Linked DNA regions of Homo sapiens: regions 1, 2 and 3 are each linked to region 4. Evidence: fine-mapped expression QTL. A gene starts in region 4. Each other region holds a variant in brackets. All regions are shown on one strand. Distances are from middle to middle. Region 1 holds the start of BSG (basigin (Ok blood group)). Region 2 overlaps BSG (basigin (Ok blood group)). Region 3 overlaps TPGS1 (tubulin polyglutamylase complex subunit 1). Region 4 holds the start of GZMM (granzyme M).

What was found. PIP is the estimated chance that this variant, and not a neighbour inherited with it, causes the effect.
Region 1: its variant is fine-mapped to the expression of GZMM in whole blood (INTERVAL, PIP above 0.99).
Region 2: its variant is fine-mapped to the expression of GZMM in whole blood (TOPMed, PIP 0.98).
Region 3: its variant is fine-mapped to the expression of GZMM in whole blood (TOPMed, PIP above 0.99).

What each region holds. Positions count from the first base shown.
Region 1 is chr19:569,729-574,916 of GRCh38, forward strand. It overlaps BSG (basigin (Ok blood group)), which reads left to right and starts at 2,868. Exons shown (of 9, transcript NM_001728.4): 1 at 2,868-2,973. The coding sequence starts at 2,907. BSG-AS1 (BSG antisense RNA 1) reads right to left here and starts at 2,520. Exons shown (of 3, transcript NR_184018.1): 1 at 2,381-2,520; 2 at 1,712-1,868. RefSeq lists enhancers at 1,116-1,688, 1,769-1,818 and silencers at 2,639-2,858, 3,029-3,208. The variant C/CAT (reference allele first, on the strand shown) is at 2,358.
Region 2 is chr19:578,378-583,561 of GRCh38, forward strand. It overlaps BSG (basigin (Ok blood group)), which reads left to right. Exons shown (of 9, transcript NM_001728.4): 3 at 1,123-1,279; 4 at 2,002-2,084; 5 at 2,269-2,405; 6 at 2,938-3,214; 7 at 3,929-3,953; 8 at 4,137-4,205; 9 at 4,373-5,116. The coding sequence ends at 4,200. Among named protein-coding and RNA genes, the nearest start is that of BSG, 8.4 kb to the left of the region's middle. RefSeq lists an enhancer at 5,000-5,184. The variant A/C (reference allele first, on the strand shown) is at 2,416.
Region 3 is chr19:514,120-519,119 of GRCh38, forward strand. It overlaps TPGS1 (tubulin polyglutamylase complex subunit 1), which reads left to right. Exons shown (of 2, transcript NM_033513.3): 2 at 4,770-5,000. Among named protein-coding and RNA genes, the nearest start is that of MADCAM1-AS1, 8.7 kb to the left of the region's middle. RefSeq lists an enhancer at 4,339-5,000. The variant T/C (reference allele first, on the strand shown) is at 2,611.
Region 4 is chr19:541,502-546,723 of GRCh38, forward strand. GZMM (granzyme M) reads left to right here and starts at 2,552. Exons shown (of 5, transcript NM_005317.4): 1 at 2,552-2,625. The coding sequence starts at 2,571. It overlaps CDC34 (cell division cycle 34, ubiquitin conjugating enzyme), which reads left to right. Exons shown (of 5, transcript NM_004359.2): 5 at 1-586. The coding sequence ends at 51. RefSeq lists an enhancer at 1,920-2,565.

The DNA.
Region 1 (5,188 bases), 28 kb after region 4:
CCCATCTCCGAGATCGCTCATGTTTTTTAGGTCACATTGTCATCCCACCCAGGATCTTGGGCCAGGAATTTACGCTCCGCTGAAAGGACGTTCTGACCGGGGGGTGTTCACGCTCCCAGACTAACACAGCGGCCTGTGAATCATGGTTCTCTCTCTCCTGAGACGAGAGTACTGAGGGTAGACATTAATTCAGCCCAAGCGTACAGCTGTGGCCCCAGAAATTGGTCAATTTGATCCGCGAATCCAAAAGGGTCATCTAACAGTGGTTTGAGTTCTTTTAGATTTCTAACCTCTGAACTGGTTAAAGGGGGCATTTACGAAGTCAATATCCCTTCCTCCCGGTGGTCCTTCCCTAAAGGGGAAAAGGGCTGAGGCAGGTCTTTTTGAGCAGGAGGCAAAAGGAAAGTTCTGTGGGTTTTTGTTTGTTTGTTTGTTTTTTGAGACGGAGTCTCGCTCTTGTTGCCGAGGCTGGAGTGCGGTGGCGCGATCTCGGCTCACTGCAAGCTCCACCTCCCGGGTTCAAGACATTCCCTGCCTCAGCCTCCCGAGTAGCTGAGTAGCTGGAATTACAGGCGCCCGCCACCACGTCCGGCTAATTTTCGTATTTTTAGTAGAGGCGAGGTTTCATCATCGTGGCCAGGCTGCCAGTCCTGAACTCCTGGCCTCGTGATCCACCCGCCTCTGCCTCCCAAAGTGCTGGAATTACAGGCGTGAGCCACCGCGCCCGGCCGAAAGTTTCGAATATCCCTTTGGCATTGTTCTGTTTCCCGTTGGAGCTTTCCTGAGGAAGGGGCATGTTCTAGTGGCTGTCCAGCGGGGATGTGGGTGGCAAGGTCCAGGTGGTTCTATAGGGGAGGGATGGAGGGGCGGAGGAGCGGGTGGGGGAGGGGCGGAGGGGCGAGGGGTGGGTGGGAGGGGCGGAGGGGCGGGTTGGGGAGGGGCGGAGGGGTGGGGTGGGTGGGTGGGGGGGGCGGAGGGGTGGGTTGGGAGGGGCGGAGGGGGTGGGTTGGGAGGGGCGGAGGGGGTGGGTTGGGAGGGGCGGAGGGGGTGGGTTGGGAGGGGCGGAGGGGGTGGGTTGGGAGGGGCGGAGGGGTGAGTGGGGGAAGGTGGTCTAGAGGATCCCACCCTTCTTTAGATATGGGGCGTCTCTGCTAAAAATACAAAAATTAGCCGGGCGTGGTGGTGCGCGCCTGTAATCCCAGCTACTCAGGAGGCTGAGGCAGGAGAATCGCTTGAACCCGGGAGGCGGAGGTTGCAGAGAGTCGAGATCGCGCCGCTGCACTCCAGCCTGGGTGACACAGCGAGACTCCAACACACACACACACAAAAGATATGGCGCGTCTCATTCATTCACAAGTTCCTCTTCAAAGGTTTGGCTCGTTCAGCGCCCTCGTTCTTCGTTTCCTACTTCCAAGGCCAACCTGACTTCCTCACCCTCTGGGCCTCCCCGTCTGAGTCTCAGTAAACAAGTTTCCCGCCGGTCCTGATCTGCAGAGATGGCACCTGCCACCCACTCTGCACATCCCCCTCCCGTCGCCACGGGCTCTTCCCGCCAGTGTAGCCACATTCCTGCCCCTTTCCAGTTAGCCCTTCGCGTTCGGCTTAGTCTGCGGTCCTCTTGCATTGCGACTCCGAGTTTAACTTCCAACACACACTTTCAACCTCCAAGAGACGCCCCCACCTGTGTCGCCCCAATAGCGACTTTTCTCACCGTGGTCGCCGCGGAACTTCAAGGGTCCTTCCTACCCGCGTTGCTGAGAGTCTGGGTTTACGCGTCACCTCGGGCGGGACCCGATCCTCCGCTCCTGAGGCCCCCACAATGAAGCAGTCGGACGCGTCTCCCCAAGAAAGGTAACCGCCAGCCTCTCCTGAAACAGAATGGGATCCAAATGGGATATTTGGGGGCGGCGAGTCGGTCCCGCAAAGAGAAACCAGCACTTAGAAAATTTCTCAGCGAGACCACTTTACTTGTACGGAAGGGGGCTGCCTGCGTGGGATGCAATCTCCAGAGCACACGGGACAAAGGAAGGGAGCTTCTGTTCCTCTGTCCTTTCCCTGTTGGCTGGGGTTGGACGCCCACAATCTAAGCTGATCCCGGTTGGCTAAAACTTAAAACTTTTTTAAAATAGGGTAAACGCGCCACCTGCGAGGAAAGAAGAAGGGGGTAAGGTTGATTGACAACTTTAGACCTGGAAGTTGAGTTTCTGAAGAGGAACTTACTTGTCCCAACCAAATGGTGCACAGGACGTTTATACTAAGAAATTATTCATTTTCTGAGATCCAGATTCAAGTGCCCTTTAAGTATTTTTATTTGGGCGGAGGAGGTCACTTCCTCCCACCTAATTTATTAATACGTT[C/CAT]ATATATATATATATATATGTACATTTTTAAAGGCAGAGATGTGCGTCTCGCCATGTTGCCGCGTCTGGTCTCGAGCTCCCGGGCTCAAGCGATCTTCCCGCCTCGACCTCCCAAGGCTCTGGGAGTACAGACGTGAGCCACAGCGGCCGGCCCGTGTTTAACTCAGATAAAATCTGGGTAACACACTTTCAACGCTTCAACCCCCTCGGGCGCACCGCTCTGCGCTCATTGCAACTTTGAAAGCAGGAAGGAAGAAATGCGCAGGCTCCAGCCGCGTCCCCGCAGGCCCCACTCCCGTTTCCTAGCAACGCCGGGTCACGTGCGCCGCCGCCCGGATTCCGTAGCGTGAGCCTGCCGGAGCCGGCGCGTACATGCGAGCGTGTGCGCGCGTGCGCAGGCGGGGCGACCGGCGTCCCCGGCGCTCGCCCCGCCCCCGAGATGACGCCGTGCGTGCGCGCGCCCGGTCCGCGCCTCCGCCGCTTTTTATAGCGGCCGCGGGCGGCGGCGGCAGCGGTTGGAGGTTGTAGGACCGGCGAGGAATAGGAATCATGGCGGCTGCGCTGTTCGTGCTGCTGGGATTCGCGCTGCTGGGCACCCACGGAGCCTCCGGGGCTGGTGAGGAGCGGGTAGGGGGCGGGGGTGCGGTCCTGCAGGGGCCGGGAATGGAGGCCGCGGTGCCGACCCGAAGCCGACGGGAGCCTGGGGCCTCGGCGCGGGGCGGCCTGGGGTGCGAAAGGCCGGCCCCGGGGGCTTCCCGCGCCAGCATGGAGCTTGGGGGTGAAGTCCCAGGGTTTGAGGGGGGACTAGAGGTTCCTCCCGGCGCGGCCTGCCGGGCTCCCCCGGGCGCTCCGGCCTCGAGCCCGGCCTCTGTGTGTGGGCGTGAAGCTCCCTGCTTGGAGGCGGGAGCCAGGGGGTCCTGGCCAGGCCGGTCTTGGTCAGGGGAGGTGGGCGTCTTGCTTTTCGGTCACCTGGGGTTGGGGGTGACCTGCTTCCTGGGTGAGGGCGTCTGCGAAGGCGGTTGGAGGTGGCCCGCCCGCCGGTCCCATCGGCCAGGAGAAGGGAGACCCAAAGCCTGGGTGAGCGTCCCCTTTGGCCTGGAGCCAGGGGTCAGGGGCTGGTTGGTGCCTGCCCAACCCGTCCTGCTGGGGCTGGACTCCGCAGGACCTGGGGAAAGCGGCCTGGGCGTGGAATCTGGAGACGGGTCCACCCTGCCTGCGAGTGTTAGGGTCAGAGACCCTCCCCTGAGACTCTCTGGGGCCCCCGCAAGGGCCCGTGCGGCCTGGAGCGATCATCTTGGCGCTCCCTTCTGGAAAAGGGGCTTTTGTCCTCCAAGAGCACATGGAGGCTCTGAGTGGGTCAGCCCTCCGGATCGGGAAGGGATTACCGTTCTTCACGGGATTTAGCCCTGGCGTCTTGCCTAGGGCGTGCACCTGCCCCCGGGTGTTCTCCCAGACTCTTAAGACCTCGCAGGCTCCCTCGAGGGGCCCTGCGTGGAAGGGAAGGCGGAATCTCCCTCTGATTCTGCCTGGATTCAGCACCCAGAATGAGGTGGTCTCTGAACGCCCCTCCTCCTTTACAGGCGAGGAAACAGCCCTGTGGGAAGTCGAGGTTCCAAGGTCACAGTGAGGGGGCCCTGGCCACCCGATTCAGCGCAGGAAATAGTGAGAAAGTCGTTTTTAGCCGACTCTGACCCGCATTCGGTTTCCAGTGCTGTCTTAGGAGGGCCGTGTGTTGAGGGTGGGCAAACGTGGTTTGGAGAGCGCATTTGGGAAATGGATTGAGGTGTGTTTTTCCGGGAGAAAAGCATGACATCCTTTCTTGCTTCATAGAAAATTTCTTCCTTTGTTGAGACCCCCATTTGGTTCTGGGTTAAAGATTTATAGTGAGGCCGGGCGTGGTGGCTCACACCTGTAATCCCAGCACTTTGGGAGGCTGAGGCGGGTGGATCACCTGAGGTCAGGAGTTCAAGACCAGCCTGGCCAACATGGTGAAACCCCATCTCTACTAAAAATACAAAAATTAGCTGGGCGTGTTGGCGCACGCCTGTAATCCCAGCCACTCAGGAAGCTGAGGCAAGAGAATCGCTTGAACCTGGGAGGTGAAGGTTGCAGTGAGCTGATATCATGCCACTGCACTCCAGCCTGGGTAACAGGGAGACTCTGTCTTTAAAAAAAAAAAAAAAAGAGGTCGGGCATGGTGGCTCACGCCTGTAATCCCAGCACTTTGGGAGGCCGAGGCGGGCGGATCACGAGGTCAAGAGATCAAGACCATCGTGGCTAACACGGTGAAACCCCGTCTCTACTAAAAATACAAAAAATTAGCCTGGCGTGGTGGCGGGCGCCTGTAGTCCCAGCTGCTAGGGAGTCTGAGGCAGGAGAATGGTGTGAACCAGGGAGGCGGAGCTTGCAGTGAGCCGAGATCGCGCCATTGCACTCCAGCCTGGGCGACAGAGCGAGACCCCGTCTCAAAAAAAAACAAAAAAAAAATTTATTGTGACCGATGTGTTGGGAACAAGGTGCAGAGCTGGAGGGTCTGGCCTCCTGAAGGGTCAAGAGCAAGGGCTTCGAGCCTCTGTCCTGGGCATTGAGCCGTAGGGGGCCTTGGGCAGAGGCTGGGGAGGGGGCTCCTTCTTCCAGAGGCTTTGCCAGCTAACTCCTGACCTACGTCTGAGATTTCGTCTTCCTGGTAACCAAAGTGGCCCTTTATCGAATGTCTCCTGGGCAAGGGCCTGGCCCCAGCACTGCGGCCAGCTCTCTGGGGAGACACAGATAGGAGCCCATGGGTGAGGTGAGCGCGGAAGATAAGCCGCCCCCGCCAGCCCTGTGGAAAC
Region 2 (5,184 bases), 37 kb after region 4:
CCTCGTGCCATCCGTTCCGTCGTTTCTGCTTCCCCGGGCGCCTGCCCGGCTCCCTCCCTGAGCGTCCATACTGCAAGCCTGAGGGGCCCTCCAAGCTCAGCCCAGGCTTGCAGGTCTCAGAACCTTCTGTGTCCTTCGCAGCATCTCGTTCTAAGGGATTTTCAAATTTCAATTCCTAGCGGGAATATTGTAAACTAACCAAGAACCAAGAGATTTGCTTGGTTGGGGATTGGCAGAAGAACCGGGGTGCTCCCAGCACTGCTGGAGTGCCGTCAGCCTGGGGCTGGGGGGATGTGGGGCCACCTGAGTGCCTCCTAGAGAAGGGCACGGGAGCCTTGGCCGGGGGTGCTGTGGCTATTTTTTTTTTTTTTCCTGGAGATGGAGTCTTGCTGTTCCCAGGTGGAGTGTGGTGGCACAATCTCGGCTCACTGCAACTTCCGCCTCCCGGGTTCAAGCGATTCTTCTGCCTCAGCCTCCTGAGTAGCTGGGATTACAGGCATGAGCCAACATGCCCAGCTAATTTTTTGTATTTTTAGAAGAGACGGGGTTTCACCGTGTTAGCCAGGATGGTCTCGATCTCCCGACCTCGAGATCCACCCGCCTTGGCCTCCCAAAGTGCTGGGATTACAGGCGTGAGCCTCCGCGCCCGGCCACCACCGCGCCCAGCTGGCTACGTTTTTAGAAAAGAATTTCCAGTTTGTGCTGGGGCTGCTACAAGAGCTCGATGCCCTGGTCCCTGCTCAGGGACGTGGGTGGGTGCCTTGTCTGTCCCCACACCCTGGTCCCAGCCTCGTGTGTCTCTGGGCAGGAACATCGCCAGGCGGGGCCTCTGGGTTCCCAGCGCCTTAGCCCAGGGCCCGCCAGCTGCCAGCGAAGGGTGCCTTCCCGAAGGGGGTGCCTTCCCGAAGGGGCCTCCTCAGCAGGCGCTGGGCTCTTCCCTTCCCGGAGGCGTGGCCAGAAGTTCCCCTTGGGCCTCCGGTCCTCGGGGCGTAAGGGCCACGGTGTATTTTTGGGATGAAAACCAGTCCTTCCCGGGGAGGAGCCGCAGGTTCCTGGGGGTCAGGCAGGCAGCGCGGGCCGTGCTCCTCCACTCTGCTGACCGCGTCTCGCCGGGCCTTGCAGCCGGCACAGTCTTCACTACCGTAGAAGACCTTGGCTCCAAGATACTCCTCACCTGCTCCTTGAATGACAGCGCCACAGAGGTCACAGGGCACCGCTGGCTGAAGGGGGGCGTGGTGCTGAAGGAGGACGCGCTGCCCGGCCAGAAAACGGAGTTCAAGTGAGTGCCTGACCACGCCATGCCGCCACCTGCCCCTTCTCACGGCTCTCTTGCCGCCAGCGGCCTGTGGTCCGTGAGAACAAAAGACCGGTCGGCAGGCTTGATCCAGGCGGAAGTTAGGGACCAGCTCCGCGCAGACCCCCAGAGGGAAACCCCAGGGAGGGGTCTGAGGGGCGTCCTTGTGAGGCAGGGGGCTCCAGCAGCCCTGGCAGGAGTCCCCATTGCTTGCTCCTCACTAGGTCCCGGGCACGAAAGGGCGCCACACTGCCAGGTCCCGGGCACGTGTGCGGGCCTCCCAGGCTCTGTGCTCCTGGCACAAGAGGGCACCACACTGAGGCATGCCCTGCTCGGACCCCAGACGCTGTCATGGCCGGAGCTTTGTCATAACTGGGGCTGGGACGGCCCTGGGAGCACAGAGCCTTTTGTTTTCAGGCTGACTGGGAAGACGGTCACAGGGTGTGGGGTGCAGAGCAGGGACCAGAGGTGTGGGGTTCATCAGTCGGGGAGAAGGGGGTCTGTTGGTTCTCTCACCTGTGGGGTCTTGCCAGCCTGGCTCTGTCCTTGGGGCCGCACGGGGACCCCAGGAGTTCTTTTGAGGTTCAGACTTGACTGGGACAGTTTTGCTTTTTCACTGTGCCGTGGTTGGGCCCCTGGAGAACCCTGGGTCCTTGGAGGCGTCCTGCAGAGCTGGTACGCGGCTCACCTGCCTGCTGTGGTTGCAGGGTGGACTCCGACGACCAGTGGGGAGAGTACTCCTGCGTCTTCCTCCCCGAGCCCATGGGCACGGCCAACATCCAGCTCCACGGTGAGTCCTGCAGCCAGGGGTACCGGGCACCACCGACTGTCGGGAGAAGTTGTTGGCCTGAGGCACCCGGCACATCCCAGAGCCCTGGCCCCCTGCTCCCTGGAGGGGAACAGCCCTCCTGCGGGAGGCCGGGGATGGGGGCGGGCCTGCGGTTCCAGGCTCCTCTCTCTCACCCTCCTGTCAGGGCCTCCCAGAGTGAAGGCTGTGAAGTCGTCAGAACACATCAACGAGGGGGAGACGGCCATGCTGGTCTGCAAGTCAGAGTCCGTGCCACCTGTCACTGACTGGGCCTGGTACAAGATCACTGACTCTGAGGACAAGGTGAGAAGCC[A/C]AGGAGGCTGGGGGTCCTGGACCCAGCCCTCAGGACTGGGTGAGAGGCCTAGACTGGGGGTCCCGGACCCAGCCCTCAGGACTGGGTGAGGGGCCTAGACTGGGGGTCCCGGACCCAGCCCTCAGGACTGGGTGAGGGGCCTAGACTGGGGGTCCCGGACCCAGCCCTCCGGACTGGGTGAGGGGCCTAGACTGGGGGTCCCGGACCCAGCCCTCCGGACTGGGTGAGGGGCCTAGACTGGGGGTCCCGGACCCAGCCCTCTGGACTGCAGCCCTCCAGACTGGGTGAGGGGCCTAGACTGGGGGTCCCGGACCCAGCCCTCAGGACTGGGTGAGGGGCCTAGACTGGGGGTCCCGGACCCAGCCCTCCGGACTGGGTGAGGGGCCTAGACTGGGGGTCCCGGACTCAGCCCTCCGGACTGGGTGAGGGGCCTAGACTGGGGGTCCCGGACTCAGCCCTCAGGACTGGGTGAGGGGCCTAGACTGGGGGTCCTGGACTCAGCCCTTGCCTTTGGTCCCCTAGGCCCTCATGAACGGCTCCGAGAGCAGGTTCTTCGTGAGTTCCTCGCAGGGCCGGTCAGAGCTACACATTGAGAACCTGAACATGGAGGCCGACCCCGGCCAGTACCGGTGCAACGGCACCAGCTCCAAGGGCTCCGACCAGGCCATCATCACGCTCCGCGTGCGCAGCCACCTGGCCGCCCTCTGGCCCTTCCTGGGCATCGTGGCTGAGGTGCTGGTGCTGGTCACCATCATCTTCATCTACGAGAAGCGCCGGAAGCCCGAGGACGTCCTGGATGGTGAGCCGTCTGCCCTCCTGCCCACATGCCCTGCTCTCGGGGTGGCCCAGGGCCACTCCTGGTCCGTCCCTGCCAGCCCCACCGCTGACCCAGAGCTTGGAACTGAGGAGCCCCAGGCAGGGAGTTGATGGGACCCCGAAAGAAAGTGTGGGATGGAGGGTCTAGCCCCGGGCAGCTGCGGCTCAGTGGGCAGCGGGACCCCGGGAGGAGGAGGCGGCACCTCCGCCCCACAGCCTCACCCGGCCCTTCCCTCCCGCTCACTTGGCTGCAAGCCAGTGTCCTCCGTGGTGAGCCGGCCCTTGCTGCTCTGCATGATCAGGCTCGGGAACCTGAGGTCAGCCATGCTGTGCTCCGGCAGCCCCTGCCTGCCTCCTCGCGGAGCCCTTCTGCCCCTTGGGCTGCGTGTGCCGGGGCGAGGCCTGTGTGGGGCCTGTGATGGCAGCTCCTGGAAAACGCTGTGGGGCAGGGGTGAGGCCCACGAGGCCATGGGGACAGCTCACCATGGGGAGCACACCTGCAGGTGGGGAGGGCTGCCTTTCCCCACAGCACTCAGAAGATGCACGTGGCCGGGGCTGATGAGCTGCCCCGAGCCACCCCTGGGGGTCACTGAGGGCAGGGCTGGCAGCACAGATGCCCCTGCTCGGGGCCTGAGTGGGGCCAGTGCTGACAGGCTGTCCTCTCGTCCTCTTTTTCATGGCGGCGGTCCTTCTTCAGATGACGACGCCGGCTCTGCACCCCTGTAAGTTCCAGCTGTGGGGGTCGGGGGTCCCAAGGAGCGGCCTGCTGCCCCAGGCCTTTAAAACACAAAGGCAGAGCCCCTGGGCTTCAGTATTCGGGGGTCCTGGGGGCCGGGGTGGGCAGGGGTGACTTGGAGAGAGTGACTTGCGGGGGACACCCTCTCACCCGGCCCCTCGTGCCCCAGGAAGAGCAGCGGGCAGCACCAGAATGACAAAGGCAAGAACGTCCGCCAGAGGAACTCTTCCTGAGGCAGGTGCGGTGGGCGGGAGCTCCTCCTGAGCCAGGTGTGGTGGGTGGGTGGGCGGGAACTCCTGAGCCAGGTGTGGTGGGCGGGATCTGCTAGCCAGGTGTGGGCTCCTGGGTCCCGCCTGTGGGTCGCTGGGAGGTGGGTCCAGTCTGAGCGCCCCTCCCTGTCCACAGGTGGCCCGAGGACGCTCCCTGCTCCACGTCTGCGCCGCCGCCGGAGTCCACTCCCAGTGCTTGCAAGATTCCAAGTTCTCACCTCTTAAAGAAAACCCACCCCGTAGATTCCCATCATACACTTCCTTCTTTTTTAAAAAAGTTGGGTTTTCTCCATTCAGGATTCTGTTCCTTAGGTTTTTTTCCTTCTGAAGTGTTTCACGAGAGCCCGGGAGCTGCTGCCCTGCGGCCCCGTCTGTGGCTTTCAGCCTCTGGGTCTGAGTCATGGCCGGGTGGGCGGCACAGCCTTCTCCACTGGCCGGAGTCAGTGCCAGGTCCTTGCCCTTTGTGGAAAGTCACAGGTCACACGAGGGGCCCCGTGTCCTGCCTGTCTGAAGCCAATGCTGTCTGGTTGCGCCATTTTTGTGCTTTTATGTTTAATTTTATGAGGGCCACGGGTCTGTGTTCGACTCAGCCTCAGGGACGACTCTGACCTCTTGGCCACAGAGGACTCACTTGCCCACACCGAGGGCGACCCCGTCACAGCCTCAAGTCACTCCCAAGCCCCCTCCTTGTCTGTGCATCCGGGGGCAGCTCTGGAGGGGGTTTGCTGGGGAACTGGCGCCATCGCCGGGACTCCAGAACCGCAGAAGCCTCCCCAGCTCACCCCTGGAGGACGGCCGGCTCTCTATAGCACCAGGGCTCACGTGGGAACCCCCCTCCCACCCACCGCCACAATAAAGATCGCCCCCACCTCCACCCTCACCCTCTCCTGGCTCCTGTCTGTGCCTGACGGGGTTGGGTTTTCCGAGAGCAGGTGCACCCTGGGCTCT
Region 3 (5,000 bases), 27 kb before region 4:
TACTGTACACCAGCCCTGTATTACTGAGCACCCACTGCACACTGACCCTACATTTACTGAGCACCTATTGCATGCTGGCCCAGCATTTACTTCACTCCCACTGCACACCGCCCCAGCATTACTGAGTACCTACCGTGTACTGGCCCTGCATTCACTGAGCACCTACTCTACACCGGCCCTGTATTACTGAGCACCCACTGCACACCGACCCCACGTTTACTAAGCACCTATTGCTTACTGGCCCAGCATTTACTGAGCACCCACTGCACACCGCCCCAGCATTACTGAGTACCTATTGCACACCAGCCCCACATTTACTGAGCACCTATTGCATTCTGGCCCAGCATCACTGAGCACCTACTGTGTACCAGCCCTGCATTACTGAGCACCTGCTGCACACCAACCCTGCATTTACTGAGCACCTACTGCATGCTGGCTTAGCACTTCCCCGGCACCTACCACAGGTGGCCCACAGAAAGGTGAAGTCGTGTGCCCAGGTCATGCCGGAGGGAAGGCTGCCCTCCTCACCATGAAGCTGAGCTCCCAGAAGGGAAAAGCGTAAGCCCTGAGGTTGGCCACTTCCTCTCTGGGACCCTTGGCCAGACCATGGGGCTGCCCTGAGCCTCAGTTTCCCTATATGTCCCAGAGGAAGTAACAGGCCACTAGCATGAGGCCTGGCCGGGAACTGATGGGGGGAGTGAGGCCAGGGGGTTAAGCAGCCCACCCAGGGTCCTGCAGCGGCCCCCACGCTGGCCACGGTGCTCCCTGGCCACTCCCTGGTGCCCTCCACGGGAGTGTGTGTCACACTACCAGCACACGAGTGGCACGTAGTAAGGCCTCAGGCTCCTCACTGGGGCAGGGAATCGAACCCACCCCAGAGCCGGCAGCAGGGCTGACAGCCTTCTTCTGTAAGGGGCCAGATAGTGAACATTTCAGCTTTGCGTGGCAGCCTCCATCCTGACATTCAGCTCTACGGTTCTGGTCGGAAGCTGCCACAGGCCACATGTCAGCGGACTGATGTGGTTATGTTCCGATAAAGCTTTATTTACAAAAGCAGGCAGCAGGTCGTATTTGACCCTCAGGCTGACTGTGGGGCCTTGCCTGTGGGATTGTGGGGAGAGAAATACCACCACTGGCCCCGAGCAGCAACTGTCACCTGTAATCCCAGCAGTTTGGGAGGCTGAGGCAGGAGGATCGCTTGAGCCCAGGAGGTGGAGGCTGCTGTGAGCCCTGATTGTACCACTGCTCTCCAGCCTGCACAACACAGTGAGACCCTGTCTCAAAAAAAAAAAAAAAAGAAAAAATGCAATGTCAGCTGTGTTAAATGTTCAGCACAGACTGGGCGCAGTGGCTCACACCTGTAATCCCAGCACTTTGGGAGGCCGAGGTGGGCGGACCACGAGGTCACTCGAGATCCAGACCATCCTGGCCGACATGGTGAAACCCCGTCTCTACTAAAAATACAAAAATTAGCTGGGTGTGGTAACACACGCCTGTAATCCCAGCAGCTCAGGAGGCTGAGGCAGGAGAATCGCTTGAACCCGGGAGGTGGAGGTTGCTGTGAGCTGAGATTGTGCCACTGCACTCCAGCCTGACAACAGAGTGAGACACTGTCTCAAAAAAAGAAAGAGGGCCGGGCGCGGTGGCTCACGCCTGTAATCCCAGCACTTTGGGAGGCCGAGGCGGGTGGATCACGAGGTCAGGAGATCGAGACCATCCCGGCTAAAACGGTGAAACCCCGTCTCTACTAAAAATACAAAAAATTAGCCGGGCATAGTGGCGGACGCCTGTAGTCCCAGCTACTTGGGAGGCTGAGGCAGGAGAATGGCGTGAACCCGGGAGGCGGAGCTTGCAGTGAGCCGAGATCCCGCCACTGCACTCCAGCCCGGGCGACAGAGCGAGACTCCGTCTCAAAAAAAAAAAAAAAAGGAAGAAAGAAAGAAAGAAAAGAAAAAAACAAATGTCAGTTGTGTTAAATGTTGGGCACAGTATTTGGCCACATGTAAACAGGCGCTGCTGCTGCAGGGAGGGAGACCAGAGGGTCCTGGTGTTGTGGGACAAAGAGTGGAGAGACCGAAAAAGGTTCAGGAGAGTTTATCAAGGTGATCACCGGCTCAGCTGGACATACATCCAGAAAGTCTGAGCCTCGAACAAAGGGCTTTTCCTATTTTTAAACATCGTAAGGCGGGAACTACGTGAGGCGGGAAGCAAGTTACAGAGGCGAGAAACAAAGGCAGTTAAGCATTACAGCATTTCTTTTTTCTTTTTCTTTTTTTTTTTTTTGAGACGGAGTCTCGCTCTGTCGCCCAGGCTGGAGTGCAGTGGCGCCATCTTGGCTCACCGCAACCTCCACCTCCCAGGTTCAAGCGATTCTCCTGCCTCAGACTCCCGAGTAGCTGGGACTACAGACGTGTACCACCACGTCCCGCTAATTTTTGTATTTTTAGTAGAGATGGGGTTTCACCATGTTGGCCAGGATGGCCTCAATCTCTTGACCTTGTGATCCTCCCACCTCGGCCTCCCAAAGTGCTGGGATTACAGGCGTGAGCCACCGTGCCTGGCCAACATTTCTCACATCTTGAGAAAAACATGTCTTACAACCTAAACTTA[T/C]CGGTTTTGTGACCCTGCAGCCGTGCTAGGGAGGTAAGCAGGAACTCGCTGGGCCTGTAATAAACTGAGGAATGTGGAGTTGGAGAGTATAGATAAGGTCCACTGACTACAGAGAGAAGACAGGCTGTTAACATTCTCTTTTAACTTGAGTGTAAGGGTGGGGGTCACACTTTGCAGCAACTTTAAGAGGATTTTAAAATTTCTATGACTACTACTATTAGGTTAGAGCTGATTTCACTAATTCCTTCTTCACTGGGGCCAGATGCCCCAGACAGATGCCTGCCGTTGATTCAAGACATTTACTGAGCACCTACTGTGGGCAGGGCAGTGTTCTGGGCACCAGGGCTATAACCAAGACGAACTTCCGGCCCTGGAGGGCAGGTGCTCACACTGGTGGGAGACATGAAGCTCACAGGGATGTGGGACAGCGAGTGAGACAGGATGACCACTAGGAAGAAAACAGGAGGAAAGGAGTTAGGGGTCAGGGGAGGCGACATTTGAGGAGAGACCTGGAGGAGACCAGGGAGGAGGTGAGGGAGATCTGGGGGAAGGCAGTGTCACGGCCCTTGCAGAGGCCCTGAGGCCGGTCCAGTTGGAGCTGGGAAGCCAGGGCTGGATGGGAGCTGCGGGGAGGAGAGGCCTGAGCTGGGTGGAGGCTGGGAGGGGGGAGGCCAGGCTGGGTGGGGGCTGGGAGGGGGGAGGCCAGGCTGGGTGGGGGCTGGCCAGGCTGGGTGGGGGCTGGGAGGATGGAGGCCAGGATGGGTGGGGGCTGGAAGGGGGGAGGCCCAGGCTGGGGGGTGCTGGGAGGACGGAGGCCAGGCTGGGTGGGGGCTGGGAGGGGGGAGGCCAGGATGGGTGGGGGCTGGGAGGAGGGAGGCCAGGCTGGGTGGGGGCTAGAAGGGGGGAGACCCAGGCTGGGGGGTGCTGGGAGGACGGAGGCCAGGCTGGGTGGGGGCTGGGAGGGGGGAGGCCAGGCTGGGGGGTGCTGGGAGGAGGAGGCCGAGGCTGGGTAGGGGCTGGGACGGGGGAGGCCAGGCTGGGTGGAGGCGGGGATGAGGGAGACCCAGGTTGGGAGGAGGAGGCCGAGGCTGGGGGTGCTGGTGGGGAGGGGAGGCCCGGGCTGGGCGGTGCTGGGAGGAGGGAGGCCAGGCTGGGTGGGGGCTGGGAGGAGGAGGCCCAGGCTGGGTAGAGGCTGGGAGGAGGGAGATCCAGGTTGGGAGGAGGCCCAGGCTGGGTAGAGGCTGGGAGGAGGGAGATCCAGGTTGGGAGGAGGCCGAGGCTGGGGGTGCTGGTGGGGAGGGGAGGCCCAGGCTGAGGGGGTGCTGGGAGGAGGAAGGCCTGGCTGGGTGGGTGCTGGGAGGAGGGAGCCCCGGGCTGGGGGGTGCTGGGAGGAAGGAGGCCAGGCTGGGTGGGAGCTGGGAGGAGGGAGGCCCAGGCTGGGAGTGCTGGTGGGGTGGGGAGGGGAGGCCCAGGTTGAGTAGGGGCTGGGAAGAGGGAGGCCCCGGCTGGGTAGGGGCTGGGAGGAGGGAGGCCAGGCTGGGTGGGAGCTGGGAGGAGGGGAGGTCCAGGCTGGGTAGGGGCTGGGAGGAGGGAGGCCCAGGCTGGGAGTGCTGGTGGGGTGGGGAGGGGAGGCCCAGGTTGAGTAGGGGCTGGGAAGAGGGAGGCCCGGGCTGGGTAGGGGCTGGGAGGAGGGAGGCCTGGGCTTGGGATACTGGGGGGAGGAGAGGCCAGGGCTGGGAGGGGGCTGAGAGGAGGAGGCCTGGGCTGGAGATGCTGGGGGAGGAGAGGCCCAGGCTGGGGATGCTTGGGGGAGGGAGGCCTGGGCTGGGAGGGGACTGGGAGGAGGGAGGCCTGGGCTGGGGATGCTGGGGGGAGGAGAGGCCCGGGCTGGGGATGCTTGGGGGAGGAGAGGCCCGGGCTGGGGATGCTGCGGGGAGGAGAGGCCCTAGCTGGGAGAAGGGAGGCGGGGGCTCAAGAGAGGAGCTTCAGGGATAGAGGGTGAGGAGGAGGGGAGGCCGGGGATGGGGGGTAGGAGGAGAGGGGAGGCCAGGGCTGGCTGGGGGGTCGGGGAGGCTAGGGCATAGGCCTGGCGAGGAGGGGAGGCTGGGGCTGGGTGGGCGCGCGGTCTCTGCCGGCCCCCAACGTCCCCGTCTCCGCAGGGCCGCCTTCAACAACAACGTGAGCGTGGCCTACGAGTGCCTGAGCGCCGGCGGGCGCAGGAAGAGGCCGGGGCTGGACGGGCGCACCTACAGCGAGCTGCTCAGGCGCATCTGCCGGGACGGCCAAGCCCCCGAGGAGGTGGTGGCGCCGCTGCTGCGCAAGGTGCAGTGCCGTGACCACGAGGCGGTGCCGCTGAGCGTCTTCCGCGCGGGCACACTCACCTGCTTCGT
Region 4 (5,222 bases):
GACAGCTGCTTCGGGGACGATGAGGATGACTCTGGCACGGAGGAGTCCTGACACCACCAGAATAAACTTGCCGAGTTTACCTCACTAGGGCCGGACCCGTGGCTCCTTAGACGACAGACTACCTCACGGAGGTTTTGTGCTGGTCCCCGTCTCCTCTGGTTGTTTCGTTTTGGCTTTTTCTCCCTCCCCATGTCTGTTCTGGGTTTTCACGTGCTTCAGAGAAGAGGGGCTGCCCCACCGCCACTCACGTCACTCGGGGCTCGGTGGACGGGCCCAGGGTGGGAGCGGCCGGCCCACCTGTCCCCTCGGGAGGGGAGCTGAGCCCGACTTCTACCGGGGTCCCCCAGCTTCCGGACTGGCCGCACCCCGGAGGAGCCACGGGGGCGCTGCTGGGAACGTGGGCGGGGGGCCGTTTCCTGACACTACCAGCCTGGGAGGCCCAGGTGTAGCGGTCCGAGGGGCCCGGTCCTGCCTGTCAGCTCCAGGTCCTGGAGCCACGTCCAGCACAGAGTGGACGGATTCACCGTGGCCGACTCTTTTCCCTGCTTTGGTTTGTTTGAAATCTAAATAAAACTACTTTATGAGAGGCCAGAGAAGCTGTGCTTGGGAGGGAGAGGCAGCCTCCACGTCCATGAGTGACTGCACACGGCCAGTCCCACTGGGACCCTGGCTACGCCAGGTGTGGATCTGGGAGGCCTGTCCTGGGAGGCACGGGGAGCAGCCGGGTCCCGCGGCCTGTACGTTCCCATGACTTGGGTCAGACAGGCCTGGGCAGCATCCCCCAGCCTGCGGGACAGGGGCGGCCAGAAAGCCCCCAGAGTTCCTCCTCCCTGTGACCAGGTGCATCTAGTGGGACGGGAGCTGCCTCTGCAGGCATCCAGCAAAGCTTCGTCGCGGGTCCACAGCCGCCTGGGCGTTGATCTCAGCGTCTCAGGGCTCCCAGGACCACAGATGCCCCCGATCAGCACTCCGGCGGCTCCAGCTCCGTCCAGGCACACCCTCGGGGTGGGGAGCCGTGGCCCTGGGCACACAGGGCAGGCACCTCACGTCCTGGTGTCAGGAAGTCCCCAGCATCGTTTTATTACATGTCATGGAGGAAAGCTCGGAGCTCCCATGCCCTCCCGGGGCACCGCCTTCCAGGAACCTGCCTGCGTTCCGCTTCTGGGCACCCGGAAAGTCGCTCAGTGGCTGATTCAGGGTCGAGGAGCTGTGAGGATGAGGTTTCCCACCAAGTTGGGACAGAAAATGGGGCCCTGGGGTCTCAGCAAACCATGGCCCTCGGGACCAAACCTGGCGTCCGCCCCTATTGTGAGTGAAGTGTTACTGGCACAGCCACACCCAGGTCTCAGGATCATCCATAGCTGCTTGGTTTGGTTTGGTTTTGTTTTTGAGACACAGTCTTGTGTTGCCCAGGCTGGAGTGCAGTGGTGCGATCTCGCCTCCTGGGTTCAAGTGATTCTCCTGCCTCAGCCTCCTGAGTAGCTGGGACTACAGGCTCCCACCACCATGCCCAGCTGATTTTTGTATTTTTAGTAGAGATGGGGTTTCACCATGTTGGCCAGGATGGTCTCGAACTCCCAACCTCAGGTGATCGCCCGCCTCGGCCTCCCAAAGTGCTGGGATTACAGGCGTGAGCCGCCGCGCCCGGCCTAAATTTATTTATTTTTGAGACAGGGTCTTGCTCTGTCACCCAGGCTGAAGAGCAGTGGTGCAATTACGGCTCACTGCAGCCCCAACCTGGGCTCAAGCGATCCTCCTGCCCCAGTCTCTCAAAGTGCTGGGATTACAGGTGTGAGCCACCGCCTTCGGCCAGTGTCTTTATTCATGAAGACCAAAAACTAGAACAGCGCAAATATCCGTCCGCTGGTGAATGCATAAACACAGCGTGGTCCAGCCACACAATGGGATGTGACACAGCCACAAAAAGGAGCGAGGCTCTGACACAGGCCACAGCCTGGATGCACCTTGAGGACGTCATGCTGGGAGAGACGCCAACGCAACAGGTCCTGTGTGATTCCACTCCTGGGAGGTCCCTAGAGACCAATTCAGAGGCAGGAAGTAGTGGCCGGGCGCGGTGGCTCATGCCTGTAATCCCAGCACTGGGAGGCCGAGGTGGGTGGATCACCTGAGGTCGGGAGTTTGAGACCAGCCTGGTCAACATGGTGAAACCTCGTCTCTACTAAGAATACGAAAATTAGCCGGGCGTGGTGGTGGGCACCTGTAGTCCCACTACTCGGGAGGCTGAGGCCGGAGTATGGCGTGAACCCGGGAGGCGGAGCTTGCAGTGAGCCGAGATCGCACCACCGCACTCCAGCCTGGGCGACAGAGCGAGACTCCATCTCTGAAAAAAAAAAAAAAAAAAAAGTGTTACTTTGTCAGGTGTGATGATGGTAGTGTGGCTTCATCTCGAGTCCTCTTTGAGAAACACTTTCTAAAATGCTCAAGGATGGAGGGTGGAGGGTGTGCAGCGGTGGGCGGGGCTGTGACCGTCACCTCACCTCCCCCACAGGAAGCGCGTGTGGGGAGGCTCGGGGCCGGGGCCAGCACCCACACTGGGTCTCCACAGCGGCATGGAGGCCTGCGTGTCTTCACTGCTGGTGCTGGCCCTGGGGGCCCTGTCAGTAGGTGAGTGGGAGCCGGGATGCAGGGGGGACACTGAGGCCCAGCGCTCTCGGTGGGTCCCTGGATGGGAGGGGTGGGCGCGGGCGCCGACATCCTGGGTGTAAGAGCGGAGATTCATCCTTGTTTGGAGGGGGACTGAGGCCTGGGGCATCCCGAGCTCCTCACGCTTCACCCCGAGTGGACATCCCGGGACCGTGGGAGAGTGTGGTGTCCACCGGCTCACCTCGCCCATCCTCCCGGCAGCAGCCAGAAGGCAGGGGTCACGCTCACACCCGAGGTGCAGAGTAGGAGACTGAGACTTGGCGAAGGAGATGCTGACCTAGGACTGCCCAGCTGGGAGGGCAGAGCTGGGACTCGATCCCCGCTGGCTGCCTGCCACCACCAAGGGCTTGGCTGGGACTAGGTGCCCAGCAGTGAGGGAGAAGGGAGGTGGGTGGCGGCTCCCCTGCATTCCAGCTGGACTGAGTGACAGGGGCTCTTGATGAGTTGGGGACCCAAGAAGATGGACAGAGGTAGGAATCCAGCCGTCAGTCATCATCATCCTTCCTCCCATTTTTATTTCCTTCCACCCATGGGTCCATCATCCCTCCCTCCCTCCCTCCCTCCCTCCCTCATCTCCCCTTCCTTCCCTCTACCCGTCCGTCCACCCATCATTCCTCCTTCCATTCTTCCACCCACCCATCCATCATCCATCCCTCTACCCATGGGTCCATCATCCATCCCTCCCTCCCTCCTTTCGTTCCCCCTTCCTTCCCTCCGCCAGTCCATCCACCCATCATTCCTCCTTCCTCCCATTCTTCCACCCACCCGTCCATCCATCATCCATCCCTCCTTTCAACCTCCCTCCTTCCCTCCACCCGTCATCCTTCCCTCCCTCCTTCCATGTATCCACCCATCCATCCATCATGCCTCTCTCTTCCTTTCCCCCCTCCTTCCCTCCTCCCTCCCATCCATCCATCATCCATTCCTCCTTCCATCCCTCCTTCCTTTCTCCCGTGCTTCTGTGTATCCATCCGTATTTGCAGGGCTCGTGCTGTTCTAGGCCTGCCCTCCTGTCTGACTGGAAGAGACAGGCCAGGCATGAGACTGTGCAGAGCGGAGGAAACACGGAGGGCAAGAGGGCGGGTGGGGGGCCGTTGCAGGAGACGAGCATAAACCAAGGGAGGAAGCCGGTGGGGGAAAGGTACGCAGGCAGCTAAGTGAGACAGACAAAGGCCCAGGGTGCAGGCAGCTTGCAGGCACAGCTAGACTTGCACTCTTGTCACCCAGGCTGGAGTGCGATGGTGCCATCTCGGCTCACTGCAGCCTCCGCCTCCTGGTTTCAAGCGATTCTCCTGCCTCAGCCTCCCGAGTAGCTGGGATTACAGGCGCCTGCCACCATGCCGGGCTAATTTTGTATTTTTAGTAGAGACAGGGTTTCCCCGTGTTGGTCAGGCTGGTCTCAAACTCCCAACCTCAGGTGATCCGCCTGCCTCGGCCTCCCAAAGCGCTGGGATTACAGGCGTGAGCCACCGCGCCCGGCCTATTTTTTTTTTTTAAGATGGAGTTCTGCTATTCTTGCCCAGGCTGGAGTGCAATGGCACGATCTCGGCTCACCACAACCTCTGCCTCCCGGGTTCAAGCGATTCTCCTGTCTCAGCCTCCCAAGTAGCTGAGATTACAGATGCCCGCCACCTCGCCCGGCTAATTTTTTGTATTTTTAGTAGAGACGGGGTTTCACCGTGTTAGCCAGGATGGTCTCGATCTCCTGACCTCGTGATCCACCTGCCTCGGCCTCCCAAAGTGCTGGGATTACAGGCGTGAGCCACCGCACCCGGCCTTAATTTCTGTATTTTTAGTACAGACGGGGTTTTACCACATTGGCCAGGCTGATCTCCAACTCCTGACCTCAGGCTGTCTGCCCACCTTGACCTCCCAAAGTGCTGGGATTATAGGCGTGAGCCACTGCACCGGCCCGCAAGCGGGGACTTGATTTTCAAAGCATGATGGGGATTCAGAGAAGATTTTGAGCTGATTTACGTTACATTATGAAATCAATCCTTTTATATTTATGATTGATTTAAAATAATTTTTGTACAGCTTTATTAGGAAATTATGCACTATACAATTTACTTATTTAAAGACTACATTTCTTGCTGGGCACAGTGGCTCACGCCTGTCATCCCAGCACTTTGGGAGGCCAAGGAGGGTGGATCACCTGAGGTTAGGTGTTTGAGGCCAGCCTGGCCAACACGGCGAAACCCTGTCGCTACTAAAAATACAAAAAAATTAGCCGGACGTGGTGATGCGCTTCTGTAATCCCAGCTACTCGGGAGGCTGAGGCAGGAGAATCGCTTGAACCCAGGAGGCAGAGGTTGCAGTGAGCTGAGATCACGGCACTGCATTCCAGGCTGGGTAACAGAGTGAGACTCCATCTCAAAAAAAAAAAAAAAATGGCCAGGTGCAGTGGCTCATACCTGTAATCCCAGCACTTTGGGAGGCTGAGATGGGTGGATCACAAGGTCAGGAGTTCGAGACCAGCCTGGCTAACATGGTGAAACCCCATCTGTACTAAAAATACAAAAATTATCCAGGCGTGGTGGCAGGTGCCTGTAGTCCCA